Linked DNA regions of Homo sapiens: region 1 is linked to region 2. Evidence: fine-mapped QTL for protein levels in blood plasma. Region 2 holds a variant in brackets. A gene starts in the other region. All regions are shown on their reverse strands.

What was found. PIP is the posterior inclusion probability: the model's chance that the variant is causal. Protein levels are from antibody-based Olink assays in UK Biobank. Linkage for the fine-mapping came from a reference panel and not from the study's own genotypes, which makes the PIPs less certain.
Region 1: it holds the start of CLEC10A, and the variant in region 2 is fine-mapped to the plasma level of the CLEC10A protein (UK Biobank, PIP above 0.99).

What each region holds. Positions count from the first base shown.
Region 1 is chr17:7,071,175-7,086,455 of GRCh38, reverse strand. It overlaps CLEC10A (C-type lectin domain containing 10A), which reads left to right and starts at 6,205. Exons shown (of 9, transcript NM_001330070.2): 1 at 6,205-6,404; 2 at 7,571-7,710; 3 at 8,343-8,459; 4 at 9,469-9,564; 5 at 9,652-9,723; 6 at 10,385-10,471; 7 at 10,571-10,725; 8 at 10,990-11,096; 9 at 11,234-11,919. The coding sequence starts at 7,644. The coding sequence ends at 11,402.
Region 2 is chr9:79,656,336-79,671,616 of GRCh38, reverse strand. All of the region lies in intron 8 of TLE4 (TLE family member 4, transcriptional corepressor), which reads right to left. Among named protein-coding and RNA genes, the nearest start is that of TLE4, 92 kb to the right of the region's middle. RefSeq lists an enhancer at 7,998-10,412. The variant G/A (reference allele first, on the strand shown) is at 6,765.

The DNA.
Region 1 (15,281 bases), not on the chromosome of region 2:
AAATCAAAGAATCTAAGCTTCTACCTTAAGAGACCAGAAAAAGATGTTTATATCCAATGTACAAACATGAAGAAAATAAGAGCGGAAGTCAATGAAATAAACAAACAAGGAAAATTAATTATACCAGAAACTGTTTCTGAAAAGATCAATAAAATTGATAAAATTGATAGAAAAAAAGTGTGAAGACATAAATTGCCAGTGTTGGCCAGGTACAGTGCTCATTCCTGTAATCTCAGCACTTTGGGAGGCCAAGGTGGGCAGATCACTTAAAGCTGAGAGTTTGAGACCAGCCTGGCCAACGTAGTAAAACCCCATTTCTACTAAAAATACGAAAATTGGCCGGGTGTGGTGGCTCACGCCTGTAATCCCAGCACTTTGGGAGGCCGAAGCAGGCGGATCCCGTGGTCAGGAGATCGAGACCATCCTGGCTAACACGGTGAAACTCCGTCTCTACTAAAAATACAAAATGGTGGCGGGCGCCTGTAGTCCCAGCTACTCGGGAGGCTGAGGCAGGAGAATGGCGTGAACCCGGGAGGCGGAGCTTGCAGTGAGCCGAGATCGTGCCACTGCACTCCAGCCTGGGCAATGAGCGAGACTCTGTCTCAAAAAACAAACAAACAAACAAAACGAAAATTAGCTGGGCATGGTGGCGCACGCCTGTAATCCCAGCTACTTGGAAGGCTGAGGCGCAAGAATCTCTTGAATCTGGTAGGCAGAGGCTGCATGAACCGAGATCATGCCACTGCACTCCAGCCTGGGCAACAGAGTGAGACTCTGTCTCAAAAACAAACAAACAAACCCCCAAATTGCCAGTGTTAAGAATGAAAGAAAATATAAGGCCGGGCGCAGTGGCTCACGCCTGTAATCCCAGCACTTTGGGGGGCCGAAGCGGGCAGATCACAAGGTCAGGAGATCGAGACCATCCTGGCTAACATGGTGAAACCCTGTCTCTACTAAAAATACAAAAAAAAAAAATTAGCCAGGCGTGGCGGCGGGCGCCTATAGTCCCAGCTACTCGGGAGGCTGAGGCAGGAGAATGGCGTGAACCCGGGAGGCAGAGCTTGCAGTGAGCCGAGATGGCGCCACTGCATTCCAGCCTGGGCGACAAGTGAGACTCCATCTCAAAAAAAAAAAAAAGAAAGAAAATATAAATACAGCTCCTACATACATCAAAAGGATAATATGAACAACTTTTTGCCAATAAATTTGCCCATAAATAGAATAAAATGGAAAAATTACTTGAAAGATACACATTACCAAAACTAAAAACGCAATAGGAAATCTGAACAGACTTTCCTGAATTCAAATAAATTCACAATTTAAAATCTTTCAACAAAGAAAATATCCAGTTTCAGATGACGTCTCTGATGAATTCTATCAACTATATAGGTAGAAATAATTAAATGGAGAAAAGTATTTTCAATAAATGGTGCTGGAACAACTGTATATATATGAAAAAATCTAATTCATAATGATCATAGACACACATCAAAGCTGAAACTATAAAAATTATCGAAGAGAACACAGGCTGGGCATGATGGCTCACACCTGTAATCCCAGCACCTTGGGAGGCTGAGGTGGGAGGATTGCTTGAGGCCAGGAGTTTGAGACTAGGCTGGGGAACAATAGTGAGATCTGTTCTCTACACAGTAAAATGTTTAACTAGTGTGGTGGTGCATGCCTGTAGTCCTAGCTATTCAGGAGGCTGAGGCGGGAGGATCACTTGAGCCCAGGAGGGGCTGTTTCTCTTGGATTTTTAAAGTAGACAATCATGTCATTTACCAATAATGACAGTTCTCTTTCCCTTTCAACCTTCATATGTTCCAATCACTTGTCTTTCTGTATGGTCTGGAAGAATCTCATGGAGAACTGGTGGCACGAGCGTGCTTTCTCTTGTTCCTAGCTTAAAAAAAAAAAAAAAAAGTCCTGACCAGTAGCGGTTCTAGGAGAGGGTAAGAATTTGCGGAAAATGTGGCGGAAGAGGGAAACGATCATTGTCAACAGTGAAAGGGGTCTCAGGGACAGAAGCATTTAGGAAAGAAAAGAAGATTGCTTGCCAAGACCTGGCAAATAAATCAGGCTTTAGAAGGACAGGCTTGCCAAACTAAAACCACAACAAGTATTGAAAGGGAAATTCTCCAAGATTACCATTGTGAGCACGTTTTTATCAGTCTACTCATGATGGCAAAACCCAGCGCTTTTCTCACATGATTTTCATATGCACGAAAGGTCATGACCTACCCAGGCGTCAGCATTGCAAACATCAGGGTTAGAGTTGTTTTTCTAGGGAGTCAGCAATTTATAGAAAATGCTCAATGTTTAGTTTATTTTGGGGACTAGAAGAACTATTTTTTTCATGAAACCCGCAAGCAATTTATCAGCGAAATTCTGTCTGCTCTACCTTCACAATATATCCAGAATCACAACACTTCTGACCACCTCATTTCTCACCTGGATATGACAGCAGCTTCTTACCTAGACTCTCTGTTTCCAGCTTGTTTCATCAAATTCACAACACAAAAGCCACACCGTTACAGTTAACATATGTCAGGTTATGTCATTCCTCTGCTCCAACCCCTTCAAAGTCTGCATCTCTGACTCAGAGTAAAAACAAGTCCTTAATAACAGCCAACAAGGCTCACATTTTCCCCCATCGCTCATCTACTCTTCTCCTCCCTGACTCACTTCTCTATAAAATCTCTGGCAAGTCTGTCAAATGGATGATCCTCATACACACCAGACGTTCTCCCACCTCAGGGCCTTTGCACTTGCTCTGCCCGCTCCCTGCATCACTCTTCCTGCCAGAGCCCCTTGTGACTTGCTTCCTTACCTCCTTCAAACTTTGCTCAGATATCACCTTCCCAGTGAGGCCTTTCTTGACACTCTGGTATGGTTTGGATCTGTGTCCCCGCCCAAATCTCATCTTGAATTGTAATCCCCGATGTTGGAGGTGGGGCCTGGTAGGAGGTGATTGGATTATGGGATGGATTTCTCATGAATGGTTAGCACCATCTCCTTGGTGCTGTTCTCATGATAGTGAGGGAGTTCTCGTGAGATCTGGTCTTTTTTTTTTTTTTTTTTTTTTTGATGGAGTCTTGCTCTGTTGCCCAGGCTGGAGTGCAGTGGCGCGATCTCGGCTCACTGCAAGCTCCGCCTTCTGGGTTCATGCCATTCTCCTGCCTCAGCCTCCCCAGTAGCTGGGACTACAGGTGCCCGCTACCCCGCCTGGCTAATTTTTTGTATTTTTAGTAGAGACAGGGTTTCACTGTGTTAGCCAGGATGGTCTCGATCTCCTGACCTCATGATCCGCCCGCCTTGGCCATCCAAAGTGCTGGGATTACAGGCGTGAGCCACTGCGCACAGCCGTGAGATCTGGTCATTTAAAATCTGATCCCCTGTCTTTTCTCTTGCTCCTGTTCTTACCATGTGAGGCACCTGCTCCCCCTTCATCTTCCACCATGATCATAAGTTTCCTGAGGCCTCCCCAGAAACTGAGCAGAGGCCGGCACCATGCTTCCTGCACAGCCTGCAGAACTACGAAGCAATTAAACCCCTTTCCTTGATAAATTACCGAGTCTCAGGTATTTATTTAGAGCAATGTGAGAATGGACTAATACATGCCCTATTCTTGAGGGACATTAAAAATCAACCCTATCTCATATCCCTGCTCTTTTTCCGCAAAGCACTATTGCCATGTGGCTTATGTATATTTTACTCATTTATTTTGTTTATTGGTGACCCACTAGAAGGTAAGCTCTATGAAGGCAGGACTTTTTTGTCTGTTTACTTTTGAACTCCTGAACTCTGCCTCTTGGGAAGGAAAGTGCTTGGCATGCCGTAGACTCAATAAGTACTCAAATGGATGAATAAATGTGTATAAGAGTGATTGGACGTATGTTTATTGCAGAACTATTTACAATAGGAAAGACTTGGAACCAACCCAAATGCCCATCAATGATAGACTGGATAAGGAAATTGTGGCACATATACACCATGGAATACTATGCAGCCATAAAAAAGAATGAGTTCATGTCCTTTGCAGGGACATAGATGAAGCTGGAAACCATCATTCTCAGCAAAGTAACACAGGAACAGAACACCAAACACCGCATGTTCTCACTCATAACCGGGAGCTGAACAATGAGAACACATGGATACAGGGAGGGGAACATCACACACCAGGGTCTGTCAGGGGGTGGGCGGCAAGGGGAGGGAGAGCATTAGGACAAATACCTAATGTATGCGGGCCTTAAAACCTAGGTGATGGGTTGATAGGTGCAGCAAACCACCATGGCACACGTATACCTACGTAACAAACCTGCACATTCTGCACATGTATCCCAGAACTAAAAAAAAAAAAAGAAGCTTCAAACCCACTGAACCAGACTGAAAAAAAAAAGTTAGTGAATGGAGAAATATCATGTTCTTTTCATGGAAGATTCAACAATGTCAAAATGTTGATTATCTCCAAATTAATATGTGAATACACTGCAAGACTGTGGTAGACACACAGAGAGCTACCCAGGTCCCCCTTCTAGGAAGGATGTGGTGACCCACTGTGGGGAGTGTAACCTGCAGACAGCTGCTTCCTGAGGTCACACCCATGTCAGGGCTGACTGCCAGTGACCGAAGGAGCTGGTGCTCTACAGGACCCTGTGGCAGTCCAATGCTGGACAGCTCCCGGGGGTGGCATTGTTTGAACCCAGAGCTCCCTGTTGGTTTGGTTGAAGCTCTCCAAAGTGCTGGGCTTCTCCCTCTGCCCAGCACCATTTCATCCACTTTCCTTTTCGAAGTGCTAATCCCTAATAAATAGCTTGTACCCCAAATTCAGCCTCAACCTTGGCTTCCAAAAACCGAACCTGCGACATATACTAATCAAAATACCGAATACCAAATAAAAACAAAACTGGCAACGACCTGGCCGGGTGCGGTGGCTCGCGCCTGTAATCCCTGCACTTTGGGAGGCTGAGGCGGGCAGATCATGTGAGGTCAGGAGGTCAAGACCAGCCTGGCCAATATGGTGAAACCCCTCTCTACTAAAAATACAAGAATTAGCTGGGTGTGGTGGCGGGACCTGTAATCTCGGCTACTCGGGAGGCTGAGGCAGGAGAATCGCTTAAACCCAGGAGATGCAGTAGCCGAGATTGTGTCACTGCACTCCAGCCTGGGCAACAGAGTGAGACTCTGTCTCAAAAAAATAAATAAATAAATAAAATAAAAAAGAAAAGAAAAAGAAACAACTTAAATTTCTGATTTATTTCTGTCAATAGAGAAATGCTAAATAAATAAATTACGGTGCCTATGATGAAATGAGGTGCAGGTAGATCAAGTACATTTTATAAACTGATGTGGAGAAATGTTCCTGATAGCTTGTTAACTCCAAAAAAAAAAAAAAAAAGCACATAGCAGAACACAACCCCATGTACATACAAAATATAACCTAAAATGTATTTCTTCTCCTTCTCCACCTTGTAAGATACTCAGTTTCCTTCCTACTGAAAGGGATGTGCGCGTGGATTCAGGGCAGCTCCCTTAGGGGTTGAGCAGGGATCATGGGATGAAATGGAATCCTGTTCATGAAGACAGCGCCTGTGCTGAGAGCCAGAGCAGGGTGCCAAACTGTCTCCTTACAAGCTGTGAGTGATCTTGGGCTCTGAGCCTTTAGTCCGTCATCCAAAATGCCTCCCCAGGTGCTTGGGGGGAATGGTTGTGGAAGGTAAATGTCTGGCATAATCCTATCACAGATTACTCAATAAAATTTGCTCTTTTCCTTGGCTTCTCCCGTCCTATTAGGGCCAAGAAGTTCTATTCTCTGGCACCCCCTTCCCTCCTTCCGAGTGGAGTGAGGCGAGCGAGGCCACAGCTGAGCAGCCGAATGACTGGGACCCAGAGGATGCTGATGCCAGGGACTCAGGCCAGGATTGAGCAAGAGAACAGACTGGGCTTCTCTAGGATCAGAGGTGCGATGATGGAGACCCAACAATTCTGGGAAATGTAGAGGCAGGAAGTGAAAGGAAGTGTAGGGTAGAGGAGCAACAGCAGATTGTACCTCTGATCCAGCCCTGCTCCCAGATGGTAAAAATGAGGAAGCTCCGAGAAGAGGAAAGGAAGTAGGCATGGCCTGGAGGAGGAGAACAGAGCTGGCCTCAAACCCAACTCTCCCCACCCACACATGGTCTCTGTGTGTTCTAATCCCTGTTCATTCTCATTTACTGTCTAAAGTTGAGGAGATGGGATGTCCCAGATGATAGGGCTCCTGGGATTTCAGACCCAAGACCAGCAGGACTCCAGTCACCTCTACCCCAGCTCTCCAGGACACAGCGCTCCCAACTCTGAGTGACGTCCCACCTCTGGTCCTTGCAGCACAACCAACGTGGGAATCACACCCTCCAGACCTCCCACAGGTAATGGTGCTGCCGGTGCCGGTGAGACCCAGGGGACAGGGGATGTCAGAGGAAGCAGGGAGAGGGGGACTTTGGGTCTTGGGTGGGACTAAATGAAAATAAATATAAGGCGGCAGTGTGGGGTTTAATTACTACGTGGAGATTTGAGACTCTGTTCCCTTCACTGGATTCTAGATTGGGTTACGGCAGCCACAATCCCCTGTCATAAACTAAGACTCCGGGAGCTGAGGCAGGAGAATCTTGTGAACCCAGGAGGCAGAGGTTGCAGTGAGCCGAGACGGCCTCGTTGCACAACAGCCTGGGCGACAAGAACGAAATTCCATCTCAAAAAATAAATAAATAAAAATAAAAATAAACTAAGACTCAGACTCAGCCTCATTGGTGGCCCATTTCCAGCCTTATCTTCATCTCAGCCCAGCCATGCCCTAATCCCAATACTAACCCCAGCTTCTACATTTTCTTTTTTTTTGAGACTGAGTCTCACTGTGTCGTCCAGGCTGGAGTGCAACGGCACAACCTCGGCTCACTGCCACCTCTGCCTCCTGGGTTCAAGTGATTCTCCTGCCTCAGCCTCCCAAGTAGCTGGGATTACAGGCGCACACCACCACACCCAGCTAATTTTTGTATTTTTAGTAGAGATGGGGTTTCACCATGTTGGCCAGGCCGGTCTCAAACTCCTGACCTAAAGTGATCTGTCTGCTTCGGTCTCCCAAAGTGCTGGGATTTATAGGCGTGAGCCACCGCACCTGTCGCCCCCCACCCAGCTCCTACTTCAACCCCAACCCCAGAATCAACTTGAATTTTAACACCAGCCCAAAGCCAAAATTGAACCTCGACTCTATTCTGTTTCCAAATTCACCACCAAAGTTAACCCCAATTCCATCCATGGCTCCAACGTGCATACTGACCCCAATCCTAGCATGAGATACAACCTCCAGTCCTGCCTGATTAACTGGCCCACTGGGTAGTCCTAGCAATGCGTTTAGCTCCAACGTTACCCTCCAGTTTCACTCCCAAACTCAACTCGACCCCAATTCTAACTCGACTGCAAACCCAGGCTCATTTCCGTCTTAACCCTGGGCTCATTCTCAACCTGAGCCTCATCTCCCAACTCAACGTCAGCCCTGCCCTTGGCTCCAACTTAGTCCCAACCTCCTATTCCCCAGCTCCACCCCAGACTGGGCGCCGGCCCTGCCTCCATTTCAGCTGTGACAACCTCAGAGCCGTGTTGGCCCAAGCATGACAAGGACGTATGAAAACTTCCAGTACTTGGAGAATAAGGTGAAAGTCCAGGGGTTTAAAAATGGTAAGAGGAAAGGGGAAACTCTCCTAAAATGCCCTCTTTATATGTTTAGAAGGATTTCTCCTATCATTTCTGTACCTCCACCACGCGCACTGGTGGGTCCTAACTCTGAGGAGGTCAGGCCCCAGCCTCTGACGGGCCTAGTGTGAAGAGGATGCAAGGTCTCTAGAAAGACTGGGACAGGGAGGATCACAGTGGACCCAGCTTCTGATGCTCTGTGGGGTGGGGATGAGAGCTGCGCATTGGTGGAGGGAAAGATAAGTAGTTGGGTTTGGAAGGAAACTCATTTGTGAACCTGATTGTCCAGCAGGTAGGTGAGCATAAGCCCATGAAGGGCTGGCTGCCCCCAGCTCTCCCTGTGTCCTCCTGCCCCTGCCCCCAGCTCTGACCATGGGACCCCTCATATCGCTATCACGTGGGTCCCCAGGGGTGTGAGGGGCCTGTGTGACTGAGGACTTGTGCTGGTCCCTGAAGTCAAAGGCCTGGGCATCCCCCACCCCAAAATCCTCCTTGTCCAACCCTCCCCTGGAGTCCCCTGTGCCCAGCCCTCCTCACTAGACAGCTCCCTGGGCCCTCTCCTTCTCCCGTCTCCGGTGTCTGGACCCTCCTCATCCTGACACTCTCTCCTCTTGCAGGGCCACTTCCTCTCCAGTCCCTCCTGCAGCGTCTCTGCTCTGGGCCCTGCCATCTCCTGCTGTCCCTGGGCCTCGGCCTCCTGCTGCTGGTCATCATCTGTGTGGTTGGATTCCAAAGTGAGGGTCACAGGGGTGGACAGGGAAGAGAGAAATAATGGGGTAGAAGATAAATAATGGGGTGCTACAGTAGGGCAGTGGTGGGGCGATGGTGAGGTCCACAGTAGGAGCAATGCAGGGCACAGTGTTGGGGGCAGCTGTGGAGATAACAATGGGGCATGGTGAGGGCAGTGCTACCAACAGTCATGGGGGTCACAACAGAGCCACTGAAGCACTGATGGGGCACTGATGGAGTGATTGATGGGAATGGAGGAGAGGGCACTGATGGAGTGATTGATGGTAACGGTAGGGGGGCACTGATGGAGTGATTGATGGGGACGGTGGTGGGGGCACAGACGGAGTGATTTATGGGAATGGTGGGGGGCATTGATGGAGTGATTGATGGGAATGGTTGGGGGTCACTGATGGAGTCATTGATGGGAATGGTGGGGGGGCACTGATGGAGTGATTGATAGGAACGGTGGGGGGTCACTGATGGGGTGATTGATGGGAATGGTGGTGGGGGTCACTGATGGAGTGATTGTTGGGAATGGTGGGGGGCACTGATGCAGTGATCGATGGGAATGGTGATGGGAGCACTGATGGGGTGACTGATGGGAATAGTGGGGGGCACTGATGGAGTGATTGATGAGAACAGTGGTCGGAGCACTGATGGAGTGATTGATGGGAATGGTGATGGGGGCACTGATGGAGTGATTGATGGGAATGGTGGGGGGGCACTGATGGAGTGATTGATGGGGACGGTGGTGGGGGTAGTGATGGAGAGAGTTGACGGACCCATAGTCAGGATGGCTGCTGGCTTTGTCACTGAGTAGTTGGGTTATGTACTCAAATTACTTCACCTCTCTGAGGCTTAGTTTCCTCATCGGCAATATTGAACAATAATAGTGCCTGCCCCACTGGGTTGCCGTGAGGACCCAATAAGGCAATGCTTATGGAGGGCCCTGCTCGGTGCTGGTACAGAGGACCTGATGAATCCCAGCACTGACCTTCCCATCCACCTGTTTAGATTCCAAATTTCAGAGGGACCTGGTGACCCTGAGAACAGATTTTAGCAACTTCACCTCAAACACTGTGGCGGAGATCCAGGCACTGACTTCCCAGGGTGAGTCTGGTTTGGATGGGGCTCTGGGCTGGGGCCAGGCCAGGGAGGAGGAAGTTGACCCCTAAGCCAAGTCTCCGTGTCCTCCAGGCAGCAGCTTGGAAGAAACGATAGCATCTCTGAAAGCTGAGGTGGAGGGTTTCAAGCAGGAACGGCAGGCAGGTGAGAGACCCTCCGAGTATGGGTGTGGGGGGCTAGGCGCTCAGACACAGTGGAGGTGGGAACAGACTCCTGGTGCTGAACTGCCCTCCCCTTCAGCCAGCAGCTTGAAAGGCAGCATGCAGGCCGGGCGCAGTGGTTCACGCCTGTAATCCCAGCAGTTTGGGAGGCCGAGGCGGGTGGATCACGAGGTCAGGAGTTCGAGAGCAGCCTGATCGACATGGTGAAACCCCGTCTCTACTAAAAAAAATACAAAAAATAGCTGGGTGTGGTGGTGGGCGCCTGTAATCTCAGCTACTAGGGAGGCTGAGGCAGGAGAATTGCTTGAACACGGGAGGCGGAGGTAGCCGTGAGCCGAGATCGCGCCATTGCACTCCAGCCTGGGCAGCAAGAGTGAAACTCCGTCTCAAAAAAAAAAAAAAAAAAAAGAAAGAAAGAAAGAAAGGCAGCATGCTTTCTCTGGAGAGCAGGCTGGAGAAACAGGGGCAGAGGAATCCAAAGCAGATTTGATGGCTGTACCTGGCCATGATGTAGGGGGTGGGTGGGGGCGGGAAGGAACATTCCCTGGCTTGGCCCTGTGCAGGGGTATCTGAGCTCCAGGAACACACTACGCAGAAGGCACACCTAGGCCACTGTCCCCACTGCCCATCTGTGTGTGTCCCAGTTCATTCTGAAATGCTCCTGCGAGTCCAGCAGCTGGTGCAAGACCTGAAGAAACTGACCTGCCAGGTGGCTACTCTCAACAACAATGGTGAGGAAGGTATGGGGAGTACCTGGCCCTACTTTTCTGCCCATGGCCCACTGGGCAGAGCCTCAGCCTCTCCACCCTATCCTATTTCTCCCCAATCAGCCTCCACTGAAGGGACCTGCTGCCCTGTCAACTGGGTGGAGCACCAAGACAGCTGCTACTGGTTCTCTCACTCTGGGATGTCCTGGGCCGAGGCTGAGAAGTACTGCCAGCTGAAGAACGCCCACCTGGTGGTCATCAACTCCAGGGAGGAGCAGGTGAGGGCTTCTGGTACTCAGTTCCTAAGACATGTCCCATTTAGGGAAATGGTTCTTAAGCTTGGCCGCACATTGGAATCATCTGGGAGCTTCCAGAATGACTGTCATCTGTGCCACACCCTCAGAGATTTAATAGGCCTGAGCATCCAGAGAAACATCTCCAAACTCCTCAGTTGATTTAACGAAGAGCTAAAGTTGAGAATCACTAGTTTAAGGAGTTGGCTGGGATGGGAAGAAGTCACCACTGCCCTTCTGTCACCGCAGAATTTTGTCCAGAAATATCTAGGCTCCGCATACACCTGGATGGGCCTCAGTGACCCTGAAGGAGCCTGGAAGTGGGTGGATGGAACAGACTATGCGACCGGCTTCCAGTGAGTGCACCCTGGCTTTCTGTGCCAATGTCCTCCGTCAGCGTTTCCCCCAGGGATCTGACTGGCAGCCTCTCCTCCCCTGAACTGAATTCTACTCCATCTACCCTTCCTAGCTTGCTGTTGTCTTTTCCTCTCAGGAACTGGAAGCCAGGCCAGCCAGACGACTGGCAGGGGCACGGGCTGGGTGGAGGCGAGGACTGTGCTCACTTCCATCCAGACGGCAGGTGGAATGACGACGTCTGCCAGAGGCCCTACCACTGGGTCTGCGAGGCTGGCCTGGGTCAGACCAGCCAGGAGAGTCACTGAGCTGCCTTTGGTGGGACCACCCGGCCACAGAAATGGCGGTGGGAGGAGGACTCTTCTCACGACCTCCTCGCAAGACCGCTCTGGGAGAGAAATAAGCACTGGGAGATTGGAAGCACTGCTAACATTTTGAATTTTTTTCTCTTTAATTTTAAAAAGATGGTATAGTGTTCTTAAGCTTTTATTTTTTTTCCAACTTTTGAAAGTCAACTTCATGAAGGTATAATTTTTACATAATAAAAATGCACTCATTTAAAGAGTAGAGATGACTTTGACAAATATGCATGCCTAGGTGACTACCACTCCGATCGCAATAGATAACATTGCCATCGCCCCCACCAGTCCCCTCATGCCTCTGGGCAGTCCAACCACTTCCCTGTTTCCAGGCCAGTGATCTACTTCTTTTTCACTATTTATTGGCCTTGCCTCTTCTAGAGCTTCTAGAACTTCATATAAGTGAAATCATACACTCTCGTGTATATACTTCATATAAGTGAATATATACTCTCGTGAGAACTTACGTACTTTGTGTTGCTTGATTTTTGGCAATCTAAAAATGGCAGAGTGGAGAAGCCAGGTGAAGCCTTCGAAAGTCCTATGTGATTGAGAAAATAGCATTTTCTTCTCATATAGATTTGAGTTCAAATCTTTTCTGTCACTTAAAGATGGTATAAACTTAGGGTGATTAGGAAAAGCCATTGTTTAATTTCTCTGAAGATCCCAGAGTTGTTGGGAGATGTAGATAAGATCCCCAGGTGTATTGGTTAGCAATTGGTGTGTAACAAACCACCTCAAAGCTCAGGGCTTATACAGTAAGCATTTATTATAGCTCATGAGGCTATAGGTCTGGTCTGGCCAGGTTTGGGTCATCTTGGCTGGGCTTGTTTATGCGTCCGTGGTCAGCTGGTGGGTTGGCTTGGGGTTGGCTGGTCTAGGGTAGCCTTGCTCCCATGTCTCATATTTGGCTGGCTCTGGGCTGGGACAATGGGGATGACTGGGCCACATTAGCTTAGCCTGGCCTTGTTCACAGAATGGCTGGGTGGGGGTCCAAGAGAGAAATTGGAAGACTGCAAGGACTTCAGAGCCTTGCTTGGAACTGAAGCATCGTTTTTGCTGCATCCTATTGGCCAAAGCAGATTGCAAGGCTGCCCAGGTTCAAGGGCCAGAGAAATAGATTCCACATTTTGGTGGGGGGTTGGGGGGGGGTCTACAAAGTCATACTGTGTAGAGAATGGATATAGAGAGGGGTGGAGATTTCTGTTTTTTCAATCAATCCAGCATATACCAGGGAAGCATCTCAGCTATTTTGATTTTTTTTTTTTTTTTTTTTTTTGAGACGGGAATTTCCTTCTTGTTGCCCAGGCTGGAGTGCAATGGCGTCATCTCAGCTCACTGCAACCTCCGCCTCCCAGGTTCAAGTGATTCTCCTGCCTCAGCCTTCCGAGTAGCTGGGATTACAGGAGCCTGCCACCATGTCTGGCTACTTTTGTGTTTTAAGTAGAGATGGGGTTTCTCCAGGTTGGTCAGGCTGGTCTCCAACTCCCGACCTCAGGTGATCAGCCCGCCTCGGCCTCCCAAAGTGCTGGGATTACAGGCATGAGCCACCACACCCAGCTGCATTTCAGCTATTAAGAACCAACTTTTTAAGTTCATTAAGGGATGGCAGGACCCATTCATTGCTGTATTACTGTACCCAGAAAGCTCCCTGGCATATAGGAATGTCTGAATTAGCTGTCAGGATTTGCTGATGGGTTGTCTGAGGGGTTTGGGAAAATGAGAAAGTCAAGGATAATTCCAGGTTTGGGGCTTGAAAACCTAGAAGGATGGAGTCCCAGTTAATTAAGATGGGAAGACCGTGTGAGAAGCTGGTTTTGTGGGTGGGATGAGGAGATAAGAAGCTTTATTTTGAACATGTTGAGTTTGAGGAGCCTGTTAGACTTCCAAATGGAGTTTATTCTTTTTTATTTTTCTGTGTACCATAGTAAACATTTATAATTTTATTCAAAGGGTTTTTTTTTAATCAGTTCCAGCAAGATACAGGTGTCAAAACCAAAGGATTTATTTCTCTTTCTCTCTCTCTACATATATATATAGAGAGACAGGTTCTTGTTCTGTCACCCAGGCTAGAATGCAGTGGTGCGATCATAGCTCACTGCAGCCTTGAACTCCTGGACTCAAGCAATCCTCTCTTCTCAGCCTCCTGAGTAGCTGAGACTATAGATGTGTGCCCCCATGCCTGGCTAAGTTTATTTTTTGTAGAGATAGGGTCTCACTATGTTGCCCAGGGTGGTTTCAAACTCCTGGGCTCAAGCGATTGTCCTGCCTTGGCCTCCCAAACTGCTAGGATTACAGGTATGAGCTGCAGTGCTTGGCCACAAAAGGGTTTATTGAAAAGAGTTTAATGACATTTACAGAGTGTGAGCAGGGTTGAGGAAGCCAACAAAAGTTGGTGAAGTCCCTGTGGCTAAGAATAGCAGAGACATCACCACTCTGAAGCCTGAAGGCACAAAAGTAAAGAACATCCACCCAGATCATCCACCCAAGCAGCTCTGTGCCTCTCTCCCCTGGGTCTGAAAGATTTTGGATCATGGGAGAGAAGCCACCCAGCAGGAGCGTGAGATCACAGTTCTACCAGGGCCACAGAATGTAGAGGGGAGCAGGAGAACCAATACAAGTCAGTTCCCTCTAGAATTTCCTGACCTGGTAATTCTGCTACCTAAGAAAGCAAACAATTACATTCTCTAGTTTTGTACAGGTAACTGGACGGCGGAGGCAGGGAGGGCATTAGGGAAAATATGGAGAGGGCGACTTTGTGTTATAGGTGGAAATAACTGGGAAGATGGATCACAGATTGAACTAGTTATTGGAGGAGATTGAAATGATCTCTCCACTGACTTCCAGATTGGGTTGGACAGCCCCAAACCAATACAATCCCAGTTCCAGCCCCAACTGCAGTCCCAATGTCGGCTCTAAATTCATCCCTAAATTCAATCTCTGTCCCCACTGCAGCTCCAGCCTAGCTGTACTACACCCCCATGCTCCATCCCACATGTTTCCAATCTCAGCCCCAAACTCAGACCCAACTCCAAAGGAGCCCTGTCTACAATCTTAGCCTGAGACCCAATCTGATTTTTAGCCCCAAGTAAGTCAACCCCATCCTAACCCCAGATACAACCCCAATTGTGATCGCTGTTTCAACCTCACCTGCAAACCCAGCCCCCAGCCACATTCCTAGTTCTCACGCCTGGCTCAGCCACTATCGAATCCTCACTTCCTACCTCAAAACCAGCTCCACACCCACCTCCAGCCCTTATTTCAGGCTCCCCCTCGGAGCCCTTTCTCTGCCTCCATCTCAGCTCCTGCAGCCACAGAGACCACTTGGGCCAAGGATGTCAATGAAGTATGAAGATCTCAAGTGCTTAGAGAGTGAGAAGGAACATGATCTTAGAAAAGGTATGACAGGCCAGGTGCGGCGGCTCACGCCTGTAATCCCAGCACTTTGGGAGGCTGAGGTGGATGGATCACCTGAGGTCAGGAGTTCGAGACCAGCCTGGCCAACATGGCGAAACCCCGTCTCAACTAAAAATAAAAAATTGGGCCGGGTGCAGTGGCTCACACCTGTAATCCCAGCACTTTGGGAGGCTGAGGCAGGCGGATCGTGAGGTCAAGAGATCAAGACCATCCTGGCCAACATGGTGAAACCTGTCTCTACTAAAAAATACAAAAATTAGCTGGGCATGGTGGCGGGTGCCTGTAGTCCCAGCTACTTATTAGGCTGAGGCAGGATAATTGCTTGAACCTGGGAGGCGGAGGTTGCAGTGAGCCGAGATCGCGCCACTACACTCCAGCCTGGCAACAGAGCGAGACTCTGTCTCAAGAAAA
Region 2 (15,281 bases):
AACCTTATTGACAGGGATTAGGTGTATGAGTAGTAAAATAATGAAAAGCAGCAAGAGTCTCTCCTGCTCGACAAGCATCTGTTGGGTATACTCCCTCTCCCCACACAATTAGAGGAATGCCAGAATTGTTATGGTTTACAACACTGGAGGGAGAAGTCCATTTTACAGATAATCTGACACGAAAATAAAAGAGGCTCTCTGCAAAAACGGTAAACTGTGAGATCACAGTCCTCGGGCCACTCGTTGAGCTCGTCAGGGTAGTTATTAGCTTTTCCTACCAGTAGAAGCACACAACACTAGCATGGCAGGTGAATGTCTTTTAAAATCAGGATTTAGACTGACAGGAACCCAGAAGGTTCTTCCTCTTTGGTCTCCAATTTCATCCATTATGAGCAGCAAGTAGTTTTGCTGTAAAATACATAAAAGTCACATTCTCAGCCAAGGTTGAACTATCCCTAAACACAAAATCCCCAATGGAATTAAATATGTGCTAGGATCAGCTAAAGTTAATTCTCAACCATCTGCATGTACAAGATCCATTTTGTAGATTTTTTTTTAGGCAAAATTTAATCTCAATAATTTCCCTGTGGCCTGGCACACTTCTAGTTTGCTCCTTTCTGCTGTTAGTTTTGTGTTTGTTTGTGGAATGCAAGTTAATTTAAATATTAACCCTCCAAAGAATAAACACAACCAGGTCATTTTCAAATTACTCATACTGTACACTAAAAAAACAAACAAAAAAAAAACCAATAAGGACCTACTATATTGGGCAACTTTACCACTCCCATGTTACACAGATAGAGAAGAAGACTGCCAAAAATCACAAGGATGGTAAATAGCATAAGGCATGATTTGAACCCAGACCACCTGGTTCCAGAGGATGAGTGTCTAGCTGGTATTGCTACACTGTTTCCTGCCTACTGGCTGTCTAGAGTTCATAGCATGCCACATGCACAGAAGTAGACAGGTCCCAACACACACCAGCTTCCCAACCTTAAGAAATGCAGTTTGAACAGAGTATGTAGAGTCACCTTGAGTCACCGTTAACAAGGGTGATATTTTAGCTTTAAAAGCACAGCAAACATGAATACCTGCTTGAGCAGTGGGAAAGGAGGGGGAGGAAAGACTGAGGCATATCTGTCTGTAAAACAGGTCTTTTACAAAAATATGCTTACCCTTGCATCTCTGGTCACTGCCTGAGGGTGCAGTGTACCAATCTTTTTGACGTGGCCTAAGTAAATTTCTCTTGAACTCATTCTTTTCATTTGTGAGCCTTTTGTTGTGCTTTTGCCCAGGGTCTCATAATTTTGGAGTCATGCTGAGTCAAGTCGGTGTAGTCTCTTTCTTTCTTCTGGCTTGTTAATGGTGATAAACTTCTTGCCTTATTGTCTTCTCAAGTTTTTTTTTCTTTCTTTTTTTTTTCTTATTTAACTGTTACTCATTTTACTCTTTAGCTATCCCCTCTAAGGTGAGTCTTTTCAAGTTTTCTACTTGCACGATTTCCCTACCTCCTCTCTTGAGTAATAAACCCTGGAAGAACTACCAACTACTTAATCACATAGATGCATTTATCCCCATTCAGTGTCTGTCATTTCAGGGGTTTCTTCCTCATGAACTTCAGATCTAGGCCTTTACCATTTGACCATCTAGTACTGAAACAAGCAAAATATCTTCTGAGAGCTGAAACGTGGGGAGCATTCATGTAACTTTTTTGAGTGGAGCACAGCCATGTAACGCATGCCCCCATTTCTGAGAAAATCCTGACCTCTTCTCACTGGTCACTGCTCTCTAGGATTAAGATGCTGCAAAGACTAAAACAATTGGGCCATTCCCACTTTTAACAAACTCAGTAAATTCCTATTCTTTCCTAGATTTGGTCACATGAAGTACTGGAACAAGCACAATTACACAAAGGTATAATCCATTCTTTTTGTCACCAGTAGCAGAGGGGAATCCAATAAATGAGGTTGGAGAACAGAATGTTGAAAGGAAGCCTTAGCCTCTTCCTTGCTCAGACACTAGGTGAAATAATACCAACAAAACAATGTGAGTGATGGTGCCCAGAGCGCCTCAGACCAAAACTGCAGGCCAAAAAAAAAGACATAGCTTAATTTTCCTGACTATTCAAATATATTTTTAGTAACTCTTCAACTATCACTGAAACGCACTCTTCCAAAAGACATTTTAATTGCCTAAATACAGTTTCTGCCTATTCTTGCCCATGTTTTTTAAACATTTTTCTGGCCTCACTACTTATTCCAAATCTTCTACTTGTCAGAGAAGGCATATTCTGTGACAATTTCCATCTATCAAACGGTGGTGAGTTTTGCTGGCTTTTAAACAACTGCCATAGACCTATTTAGATAAACTGTTCAGAGGGACCTATCTCTGAAGCCTAACCACCTCCACTGACCATGTGTGCACTGAAAATGAACTCCTCAGCTTCTGAGTCAATACTCAAGGGGAACTTTCATTTGGAGACATTTTAAAGGAAGAAAAAATATGCATACAATCCTAAGCCAGGGAGACTTTATATTTTGGTTTGTGATAGGGAAAATACATGCACAAATGAAGCCTGGGGAAGCCTAAATGCAAAATGAAATAATCGAGCAGAAGGATGGCGGGCTTCTCCGACACTCAATCATTTTCAGTCACACTATGTTGTCCAGTAACCTGCATTGATAATTCCTCATGAATAAAATGCCAGCATTATCATCTGCAGCTACATTGTTGACATGCTTTTGCTATTTCACTAAAAATACCATTAATTTTCTGGCTTCACAACAGCTGAGCTACTCTCCATTTGAATATACAAAAGAGTATTTTGTTTAAAGCAAATTAAAAGCGTTCCAGTAGATGACTTCCATTTGCTAGCTATACTATTTTAGCATATACTGTTCTTCTTAATCCTCCCCACCTCAACGTCATGCCTGTCATCTCCCCAGTCCAAAATACTTCTATTATTAAAATTTTGTTTTAAGTTGAGGAGGGGGAATCTGGAAACTATTTCTGTTGTAACATTCTTGGCCTGCAAGCCACCTGACTGGCATGGTAAAGAGCGTGGCTTTTTGAGGGTTACAAGATACGGTGACCTCCTTGATTCTCTCACCTCTGTGAGCCAAGGTACATAAGCAACAAAATTTTCCAGTTTGGTATCGGAAGGGTAAACTGCTAAACACACACACCGAATACACCTTCCACTTCCCATCTAGATACGTTCCGACATCCTCCACTTCAGTCAGAAAGAAAACCACTACTCCTGCCAAGCCCTCCTGGCATCTCACCACTTTATTTGTTCCCATTTGTATCTAATGCTTTTGTCAACAGTTCAACAAAAGTCAAAGCAAACAACCCACTGCAAACACTGGGGGTAACAGCAACAAGCATGAATCCTTCACAATTATCCAGCCCAGCTGCTCACAGCTCGTCTGGGCTGCTTTCATTAACAACAATGTCAACAAAAGACTGAAACCCACCCAGTAACTAGATGGGTCAATACCACCACTGTATACCCTCTGTAGGAGGAAACGCTGTTCTCCTTTGTTGCTTGGGCAAACATGTAGAATAATTCAGTCAGATGGACAAGTGCTTGTCTAATCATTTGTTATGTGAATTATTCAACGACTTTTCACGTAAACTACTAAATAGGGCTCTTCAAATATTTCTGTGGCACTTCCAGCTGTCCAACTGTGGAAGTGCATAAAAGGAACAAAGGCAGATGAAAAGAGAAATCATGACCCGAGTTAGTTCCCAGTGATAATCTTTAGTTTAAGAATCTCGAATCTTCATGACTAATCCTTTTAGGCCTAACCCTTGCCTGGCATTTTCACTAGCATCCAATCTTTACTATGTGGACCAGATTGAGGGTGGGGTCGTGTAGAAAATCCTGACTTCGAAGCTCCACACTATCTTTACCTTGCTCAGCTTTAAATGGTACCCCAACTCCCCACCTTCCTTTCACAAGCACTTCCAATAGGCAGGATACGCATTTCGGATTTTTAATGGAGTATTTTAAAAACATACACATCCGTAAACAGACTATAAAACACAGTGTCAAAGCAGCTGTTCCTAGAGATTATCTTTAATGTTTTATATACATATATATATGTGTATATGTATGTTATATTTTAGAATTCCCTGGATGAATTTTGATTAAAACTATTGACATTTATTTAACAAAGAATTATTTTAAGATAAAACAGTTCTAAGTTCCCTTTCTTTCCTCTTAAGTGTATAGCTTATGAAATCATGTACAAACCAAGCAGCCTGGCGAGAAGGAGAAGGGCCCCTGACGTGGGCCCTGGCCCTCAGTTGGCTGAGCAACACCCTGTAAGACCAAGGGGGCATGCCCACACACAGCCTTTGTCCGTGGCCTCTACACCATGAGCTGGGTACCCAGGACCCTGAAATTCCCTGCCCTAACACCCCAGGCCCACTTCCAGGGTTTACTCAGTCTCAGTCCTCTTCCTGAAGCCTCCCAGGGTTAGATCAAGCTGCTGGTTTGAGTGTGTCTAGATCTGGGCGCAGCTGTAGGGGTTCGATGAAGCTTTGAAGTAAGAACTAGGGTGTGTACAAGAAAATACGTGAGGACCCACGTGGTTAAAGCAATGAACTCCAAAGTGCCTGAGAATTTTAAATTCCAACCTGGTCTTTCAGGTTATCACTAAGGTGTATTTATTTATTGGATTTATAACTTTTAAATACTTCAGTGTATGGTATGAGGGCCTCCATTTGGACTCTTTCACTGTCCCTGGGTAGGCCCAACAGGTTAAGTATCAGGTACAGTTTTTGGTAGCCCAGTCTTAAAATGCTGAAGCCACTGCAATCACCAAATGTTTCCATGTAATGTTGTGTGTCTAAGAAAACAAGCAGCATTTTTTTCCCCTAAACATTTTCACTTTTATAGATACACATATCTACAACACTAATTAAAGTGCTGATTTTATTTCTATTACTGCTTTTAAAACACAGTAAGAGTAGAAAAGTTAAAAATAAAATTCAAGAATTATGGCTATTTACCAGCCTAGTACATAGGAACATGACAGAGATTTTAAGAAACTGTTAAAAATAGATGAAGGGGTGGGGCGTGATGGCTCACGCCTGTAATCCCAACACTTTGGGAGGCTGAGGTGGGTGGATCGCCTGAGGTCAGAAGTTCGAAACCAGCCTGGCCAACATGGTGAAACCACATCTTTACTAAAAAATACCAAAAACAAAAAATTATCCAGGTGTGTGGTGGCACGTGCCTATAATCCCAGTTACTTGGGAGGCTGAGGCAGGAGAATCGTTTGAACCCAGGAGACAGAGATTGCAGTGAGCCGAGATCATGACACTGCACTCCAGCAGCAGCTTGGGTGACATAGGGAGACTCCTTCTCAAAAAAAAAAAAAAAAAAAAAACAAAAAAAAAAAACCCCACCCACACACACACACACACACACACACACACACACAGATGAAGGAAACAGCAGAGATTCATACTCATTCCACCTCATTCCTGCTTCTCACTCTAGCCAGTTTACTCACTGCCACTTGTAATTGTGGAATTTCTACTTTTTACCACCAGTGTCTACAGATTTTTAGTTCTTGGCATAAAAAATTGTGCTTTCAAAAACCAAATAACAGTCCAAGACATAGAAATAAAATTTGAGAATTTTACTTCCTTCTAAAGGTCTCTAATAATCCGTGTTAACTGTTCTACTTCTGAAGCTGGCTTCAAGTAACAACTAGAAAGCTGGCAATTTTTAAAAATACTCTTGAAAGAAGAAAATATCATCAGAGCTAAATGGGAGCAGCAAAAAAACAAATAAAATTATTTACTAATTTTGAAAACAGAGAAACCACCTGAAAAGCAAGTGAGGGTATTCAAGTGCCAAAAAATCAGATGATAAATATTTTAGCTCTGTAGTTCAATTGTTTTGCCGATTCCTACAAAACACTTTCTGAATTCGAGTAAAAGGCCCATATCCCGATTGGGAGTCGACAGAACGTTGCCACTGGCATTACTGTCAGTGTTTGCTAAAGGTTCATGTTTGCATGCATTTGCACATCAGCCCGGGCAGCTTCCTGGGAAGACTGCCTTCAGAGCTAGTCCTCCCATCATCATAAACTGGTTTTATATGCACATTTTAAAGAATTCAGGACTCACCAGAAGCTCTGAGAAATGAAGAGGAACGATCCATTAATATATTTTATTCTACTCAGAAGGCAGCATATCGCAATTCCATATTTTAACAGGAACATGATTTGAAGGAAGGGATTGTATCTAATCTTTACTGTGCACCCCCAATGCAGTACAGGCCTGTTTGCCCTCCAGCTGCTGAATCAATACCTACTGATTTAAATATTTTATTTGGACTGCAAGTTCATCTGTCAATACCAACAGGTTTCAAAGTCAGGAACCATTAATATAATTTTTAGTCAGTTGTCTAACAAAAAACAAATCAGAAAAATCTCTCAGCTACATACAGAGGTATAGCTGTGCCTTTTTAATAATCAAAGGAAAACATATACAGAATTGACAAGGAGTTCTTCCCACCTAAATACCTTTCAGTACTAATGCAATCGAACTTCTGTTTTAATACATTTGTTATAAAGGAAATTTTCACCCTAACAATTAACCAAATAGACTACATCCATCGTGAAACATTTCATATGTAATATTCTTCTTTCATTTCTCCCCAGGAAAGAGGGTTGACCCATAAGGAAGAATGGAGAGAGAAAAAAAAAGGGAGGCACAAAGAGAAAAAAGGAAGAAAAGAGAAG[G/A]GAATTGAAAATGACAAGGGTGAGCAAAACAGTTTACAAGTGAACATCTGGTATTGACAGGAGGAACTGAACACAGTCTGTACAGTCATGCTGAAGTCTAGAAGGAGGATGGCAATTTGAAAAGAGGGAGGGAAGAAGTGGCAGCGGGAGGCAGGAGGAGGGAAAGAACAGAAGAGGTCAGGGGTGGGGGACTAACTAACAAAAGTACTGTTCCTGGACGCTTACGTATTTAGTCATTATTTGCTCTATTCTCCCAAAGGCAAAAATGTCACCAGCTTAGTTTAAAATTTCCCTAAATAAGGTCAGACTAGGTTACTAACAGATTTTATCATCAAATCAGATTCCAGCCTACGCATCCAATTCAGGAGTCTCATTCAGAGCAGTGACAGTCCAATATGGTTTGGTTATAATCCCTGAGGCGGGGGCTGGGCCAAGGATGTGGAATAACTCAGCTTTCAAGTCCTGATAACTGTGGTACAAACACAAGTGATTATTTCAATTTTCTCTGCAGATTATTTTTTCAGGGCAACCCAATAAACCCAATAATGCCCAGATTTACTAGAAAAATTTTTATTCATTTCCCCATGCACCAGAAAGTAAGCTAATAACATCCCGCTGAGAGTGCTGTCAGGCTAAATCCCTGCACTGCTGAATGCACTGCCGGGATAAATCTCCCTTCACTTTCCATTCCACTATCCACTTTAGGGCAAGGCCCTGGGGACTGCTCCAGATTACCCCTCTGCACGCAGTGTCACAGGCACAAGCCCGAGTGGTCCAATCAGTGCCAAGAAAAGAACAAACTAAAAAAGATTAATTCACAGATGTTCATGCATTTCACATACACTGTGCCCCGTGGCCCGTTGCTAGGGCAACGGGAGACCACCAGTGCGCGCTTTATTGGCTTTATGAAGTGCGTCTCGGGGACTATAGTCCGAGAAACGCTGCATAATAATAGTGTGGCTTTTCTGAAGCCTTGTTTTGTGTTTATCCACATTTAACCTTCTGAGTATTATAAAGAGCACCCTTATGCATAGCTTTCAAGCACTCCTCCCTTCCCCCCAAAACTGCCACAACTTTCTATCTAGAAACATTAAATTGCATCTCTTAGGGGTCCATTTTGGGAAGACCCATGTTTATATTGCTCAACCAGTTCCGTGACCAAAAAAAAAAAATCTACAACCATTTAAAGATCACTACTATATTAGTGCAGCTAACCACATCAACCACCCAAACCCGAATACACACATGCCTTGTTTTCTATGAAACCAGGGGAACCTTGCTTTTGAGTATCAGGAGTCAGTTTTAGCCAGAAGGAATGTCAGAACCAGCAAGCCTCATCAGAGTCTGTCAGAGACGCAGCATCATCCAATAGAACTCTCTGCAGCAGTGGGAAGGTTCTGTATCTCTGCCGTTTTGGCAGTTTCTACAGCCACGTGTGGCTACTAAGGACTCGATATGTGGCTAATATAACTGGGAAAATGGGTTTGAAAATTCTATTTCATTTTAACTTTAAATAGCTTCATGTGACTAGTGGCTACACCATATTGGACAGGGCAGCCTCAGAGGCTTACCAGACAACTATCTATGTTTTTAAAAGTTCCTAAAAAGCTGTCTCTTCAAGCTTTTAGTTTCTGCTTAATTCATAAAAATATAACTTCAAGTAAATGTACACAGAATGGTCTTCATGATTGCCGTTGCCGCTAGCTGTGCGAGTCCCAATCAGCCAGAGTCTTTGTGAAAAAGGCTGAGGGAACAAGACTAACTTTCCCCTCCTTCTCCACCCCCACCCCCACCCCCACCCCCACCCAGGTTGGGAGGTTAAAATCACAAATGTCACGACTCTCAGAGCAGTAGCACAGATCAAGTGTTAATCTAAAGGGAAGGGGTGGGTGAGGGGGAGAACACAGGCTTGTGGGGGCGAGGGAGGATCTGGAATGAAGAGGAGAAAAATAAAGCCAGTGAATAGATCAATAGAAGCAACAGCTTACATTCAGATTCACAGGAGAAAGAACACACGGAGACAATCATTTCCTGGGAAAAGCTCAAGCCTAATGAGAATTTACTCTGCTCCTTTATGCGACAACCAGCCCTTTTGTGGCACGGGTTTCCTGACTGACAGGAACCCGGGGCCCCTTAATAGGATTTCCATATTATTTCCAACACCTGCCCAGAAGTTATTTGTTTACATCGAAGGAGGCAAGATTCTCAAATCAGACATCTGCTTCTAGTTCAGGCATATCTTAGGAAACCATCTAGAAAGCAGCTTTGTTACCATGGTGACATTTTTATTTTCCTCCTTTAGTTGGCTCAAAACATTAGCATTTCCAATTTTATTTTGTTGTTCAAAAGGCCAAATGTCGCTCACAAAAACAGAAGTTTAAAAAAAGATAAGTGAATAGAATTCTCAAAATTCTCTAGAATAATTAAAATGACCATAAGGAGCAATAAATAACAAGGAGATCTTATTATATAAGCCTACTGGCTTCTCTCACTGGGTGGCATCACTAACTTATTTACCTCCCCTCTCCCAGCCCTCTTCTATTCTCAAATTTGAAGTCAGCAACTTGAAAAGTAGCAATTTAAAAAAGAAGATTCAAGAATCCTTCAGGATATGATACAATTAAATAATGAGTCCATTTCCATGAAAAAGAATTCCTCATGCTCACCCTTATCACCATATCTTAGAAAGTTCACTTACAACAAGAATACTTAAGACATTTTAACTTCCACCTCACTGCCTGCATTTCTGTAAAAGGGGAGGGAAAGTGTAAGCTTTTCACGAACATTTAGTGGATGCAGAGGGGATGGAATATTAAACAGTGTGAAGGAAGAAAGGTGGACCGCACGTGAGCGGATTACATGTATGTGTGTGTTGTTCTCCAGTTTCTAGTGAAGGAAAACTAGAGGCAAAACTGAACCCAGGGGTTGGGAGGAGGAGGGTACTTAACCACCAATTCCAACTATCACAAATGAGCGGGAATTTCTTATGTTACATTACAATACTAGAACTCTCAGCTTACACTGTTTTTAAGCAGTAAAATTTATTACATACAAAAATAATTGGATTGGTTCTAAATAATGAATAATCTGATAAAGTTAAAGCAATGTGACTTATTTTATTCAATATTTAGATTCAAAGAAAAACAACTAAGTATTCAATGCTAACATTTCAAGTTTTGATTTGCCAAGTCTAAGCAGCATTACTGAGTTTTGAAATAACTGTATTATCTTCATTTAACAGCAACCTTATTTAAAAGCATCAAAAACTCTTTCAGAAAGTACTACTCAGCTCCTCAGCAAACTTCCTTTCTATTACTCTCTCATGAAGCCTGAATTCTCTTCAACCCTTTCACAAGGCAGTTGCCATGGCAGTAATCAGATATGACTCTCTAAGTCCAAAATTACAGCCCTTATTAAAGTGGTGGGTCCTACGCGTAGAAAGTCTTTTAACCCAGAAGATAGCTGAGCTACTTCAAATCACCACAGAACAAAATACATAAGTTGGACAGAGGAAAGTGTTGCAGAAATAATTCAAGAAAGAAGAACAAGAGTATTAAACTACCCCATGAGTGATTTTATAATTTTTCCAGAGTGGGGTTAGTGTTACTGTAAGAATACAAAAAAAAGATGGTGAACGATTCTTTGGAATAATTCCATTGGAAGAATTATCTACATTTTGAGAAACAAATGTTTTTGAAATTCAAGCGTCAACTATTAAAACTTAAATCTTAGGCCCCTCTAAATTTTTAAAAATGTTAACTATAAACGTTATAATATTTTTGCAAGAGATGAAATGCATCCTAATTAAGAAAATTAGAAATTAACTAAACATCAGTATGAAAATGTCTAATAACTAAGAGGGATGGTTTATGGAGGGAAAGGAATAAACCATTTTGCCAAATCAGCTGGAGAAAGCCAACCTGCCAACCAGGCCGCCCCTGTTAATTAGTATTTGTTCTGCTTCAGCGATCGGCGGAGGAGGGTGCTGCAAAACAAGCGTGTCTCCCCGAGTCACTCACATCATTAATCCATTTATGCTCACCACCTGAGGACCAGCTATGCCCTAAAGATATTTATTCATCTGTTTGACAAACAAACAATTACCACACATTTTTCTAGAATTAGGACACCTGTTACGTTTCACACAGTTTACATGCCTAGAGGCAGGTATCAATTAATACTGAACAAATTACTGCATCATAGATTCATAGAACAAAACTTCTTAACTGTTCCTTGATAACTGTAAATAGTAAAATACATGGTAGAAATAAATACCTAAAAGTCTTGTAAACAAATAATTAAAAAGCAATAGCAATGCTAAAACACTTAATTTCAAATTACCATCTTATTTTGTTATTTTGGGAAATTGAAAGAGTTATAACGTTAAATGCTTGAAAGGCATACTTTATCACCCTACCACCGAACCCCTCAAATGATTTCCTCACTTCTAACCACTGTGTTTACTTGGCTAATGGTATGGCCAACTTTATTGCTGAAACATAACCTATGGTATAAGATTTTTATTTCAAAATTTGTTTCTAGGACAGGACTAAATAACACATAAGAAAATAGCTACATTCCAAATACTTGGAAGAATGCCTTGAGTTACAGCCTTGAGATCCATGGAGGTTAAGTGACTTGTCTATTGATATTCAGCTTACCCAGTGGTAGAGAGGATTGTTGCAGAACCTGGCATAGCCTTCCTACAGAATGGCTCATATTCTAAATGTTTCAGTGTGCTTCCTTGTGGTGTCAAGAATACTTCATGGTGAATTACACCAGGAAAAGCCTTTTCCTTATGATGGGAGAATGGGACAGAATGAAATCTAGGTTTGTCTGTATACATTGGTGATGAACAATGAAATGGATTTTACCAATAATCAAGGGAGTAAGATATCTAGAAATGTATGCTGACCGTAAAAAGGTAGAGTTCTATTTCTATTCTTTAACCTTGAAACACAGGCTATGATGTATTTGAAATACAAATCCACTGTCCAAATAAGTATTGCTCAAGATAGGCTTTTAAAAACATATTTTAAAATATGATTTTAAAAATATATTAAGTACTTCTATTTCCTTATTAGGTGGTATCCCTGATTCCCCATGCCCTAACTAAGTAAAGTTCTCTTCCCCTAAATTTTTAGCTTCTTGAGGGGAAGAGTCTTAATCTGCTTTGTGGAATTGTATAAGAGGACAAATCGAAGATTAGTTTGAGAAGGAAATTATGAGTTAGGGAGTGGCAAAAAACAAAAATTTTTTTAATAAGAAAGATTTATAGAGACCTAACAGAGATCACAACAAAATAAAATGAATCCTATTCGAATCTCATTTCAAGTAAACCAATTATTTGAAATAATCAAAGAAGTTTGATTATAAGCTGGGTATTAGAAGATATCAAAGAATTATTTTACTAAGTGATTAAAGGCATTATGGTTATCTAAAAAAAAAAGGGCCCACTATTTAGATAATGTGTTCATTTTGCATATTGAAGTACACAGGAGCAAAATGAGCATACAAATACTTCGGCAAAGAAAAAGTATAGATAGAAATATGGCTACATATTGATAGCTCTTGTACCTAGTTGCTGGGTGTATGAGGCGTTCTTTGTACTTTGTAGTATGTTTCAGATTTTTAATAACTGAGAATGAAACTGGGTTACCCAAAGAGCTTTCCTTTGAGGGCGGCGCTGGCTGTGTGACCTTTGACAGGTCTTCACACTTCTAAACCTTTCCTCATGTATGAAATAAGGGTAAGCATAACACCTACCTTCACCAGCAAAATCTAACCTATGAGCTATACATGCAGTGGGGGCTGCTCAGAGGAGATCAGTAGGACTGAGTGGACACTGTGGACCCACCTTATTTTTCCCTAGGTTACAGTGGATATGCTGAAGTGTTACAGCCCTTAATTAGACAACTTCTCTTCTCAGATTGCTGATTACTGAGGGGAAAACAGAAGATACCAAAAGTCCATGACTGTTTTGTTTGCTTAAACACTCTTTAGTGTTCTGTGGATTTCAATGATTTCCCCTTTTTAATCTACCTTTCTATTATTTTATGCCTTTGCCTTTTTACAATATGTACTTCTAAAGTCTGGAGTAATACAAATTTATCCCAGCAAGTTATCTCCCAAACGGTAAAACTCCTACTTAAAGGGGTGTATGAAGTAATCATTCTGTTAATTCAGACTAAAAACCCACATTCACCGGTTAACACCCAATTAATGAGGCAAAAGTGCTTTCTTGGCCTGAATCATGCCCTTCAATTTGAACATAAAAACAACCTTATTCTAATTTTCCGCTGATAAACCTTTATTGTCAACATAATAAATGGGGGATAGAAAAAAGCAATGTATGATGTTTTAGTCATCTATGCCCCAAAATACAGATGCGGCAGAATAAAAATGCATTGCCTTAAACACAAATAATGAATGAATCATTATAAAAACCTTTAAACAAAATCAAGGAATTTGCACAGGAAAAAAACAGTGTATATACCCAGAGAAAAGCATTTAGCTAAAAAATAATTATACGTAAATTAAAAAAATAAAGTGCACCATCCATACTCATTATGCCAACAAAAATTACAAAAACTATAAAGTTCCATATTGGCGGATTGTGTGGAAACATATTCAAACATTGCATTTGGCATTTTAAATTAGTACAGGGTTTTAGGAGATCAATTTGGCACTGCACAAGTCACTAAAAATGATCATACTCTTTGATGATGCATCCAGCACTCTGGGCTTGAAGACATTCCAATGAAATAACAAAAATAAAAACACCACCACTCAGATGGAAAAAATGTTTGTACTGGGTAAGCATAGGCACAGAGGAGAAAAAGTACTCGTGCTATATTTTACAGATAAAAAAGGCAAATCCCTCATAGATGTGACTTGAGAAGGCTATTGCACTCAGGATAAAACACAGGAGAACCAGGCAGATACATGAAAAGGACTTACAAAGTAATAAAGAATGCACAATAATAGCAACTTGGTTGAGGCCACGGAGCTAATGAGCATTTGGTGATAGTGAATTTTGCGACTTATATTTAAGCTGGTCTTGATTTTGGTGCCTATTTTTTGCTACCTGATATTGGAATTATGCACACATTTGGGACGGAGTGGGAAATAAGACGATTTCTGAACCTCAGATTCTTACCAAGTTTCAGGCAATTTTGGCCTTCACAGCTCTGAATCATTACCCTCATTTCAGTCACTCAGAAAAGAACTGGAGAGTGCTATGAGGAACCTAATAGCACTGGTTCAGTCTGGGCAGCTGACTCCTCTTAATGAACTGGAACCTCCATCAAGTGGGAAGCTCCTGGCAGCACAAGGGAATGTCCCCTCTGACACCATTTTAGAGCCCATCACTTTTACCCCTCAGCCCTCAATGAGAGGGGGTGGGCAATGGAAGATTCCATCACCTCAGAAAACATTTCCTTGGTGTCACTTACGACTTTTCTAGGGATGAGAGAAATGGTTCTTGATACTACATAAGATGGTGAGAACACTCCCCCTTAGCCTACGTTGGATTCTTTTTGGAGAGATAAATTTGGGCTTTCTGCCCTACCATTAAGGGTGAGAGTGGATCACAGTCTGTGTTTCTTGTCATTTTCAGGCCTCAAATGTGGGACTTACTGTTGGGCACATGGAGTCACTGGACAGCCAAGTGACAAGCAAGGAAGGCTGCAGGTGCCATGGCTCCTGACTTCAACAGCCCTACAACACACACTGGTCTAGTTTCTCATCATCAAGGAAACTGATTCTTGGGCTCCTACAGTGTTTTCTCCTTTAGATCCATATTTACATTCTCCACCTTTGTTGAAAAACTTCAGATACAGGTCTGCAAATAACAGGCTTAGGAATGAACTTGGCTACAGGAGCTATAGAAAAAGAGATCAATAAAGCCAACAGCGTGCAATTTGGTGGCCACAGAACTTCCCAGAAGAGAAAGACAAAGGAAAAAAAAGGCCCAACATGTTAACAAGTGAATTTTACTTGGCATCTAAAGGTAAAGTACCTAAATTACTTAAATCTTTACAGTAAGTTTAAATTTATAGTTTATAAGCTATTCTGAAATCTGCCCTGTTTAACAATCTGTAACGTCAAGAAAACATTTTAAAGTATCTCTCACAATCAAACCCATCTACAACCTTGTATAAATCAAAATTTTGCTACCATATCAAAATGTTCCACTGGGGCTGTATAAGATTGCCCACATCCTCATTACATGCAACACTAATTACTACCAGCAGATTCCGAATTTTCTGCACATTAGAGGCTTTTAGAGGAGCTATAAAAAATTTCAGGCACCATTAATTTAAATTTGTATTGAAATTTCCTTTTGACAGATGGCCAAAAATTACTTATTATTTAGAGTACCAGAGCTGCCTGTTTGCACATTAGAAGAGGAAAGGGAAAAATTAAAAGCAAGAAGGAAATTTATGTCACGTTCATTACCTGTTAAATGTTAAGGAGCATTATCTTGCATAAATAAATTATTTCATACAAGCTCGA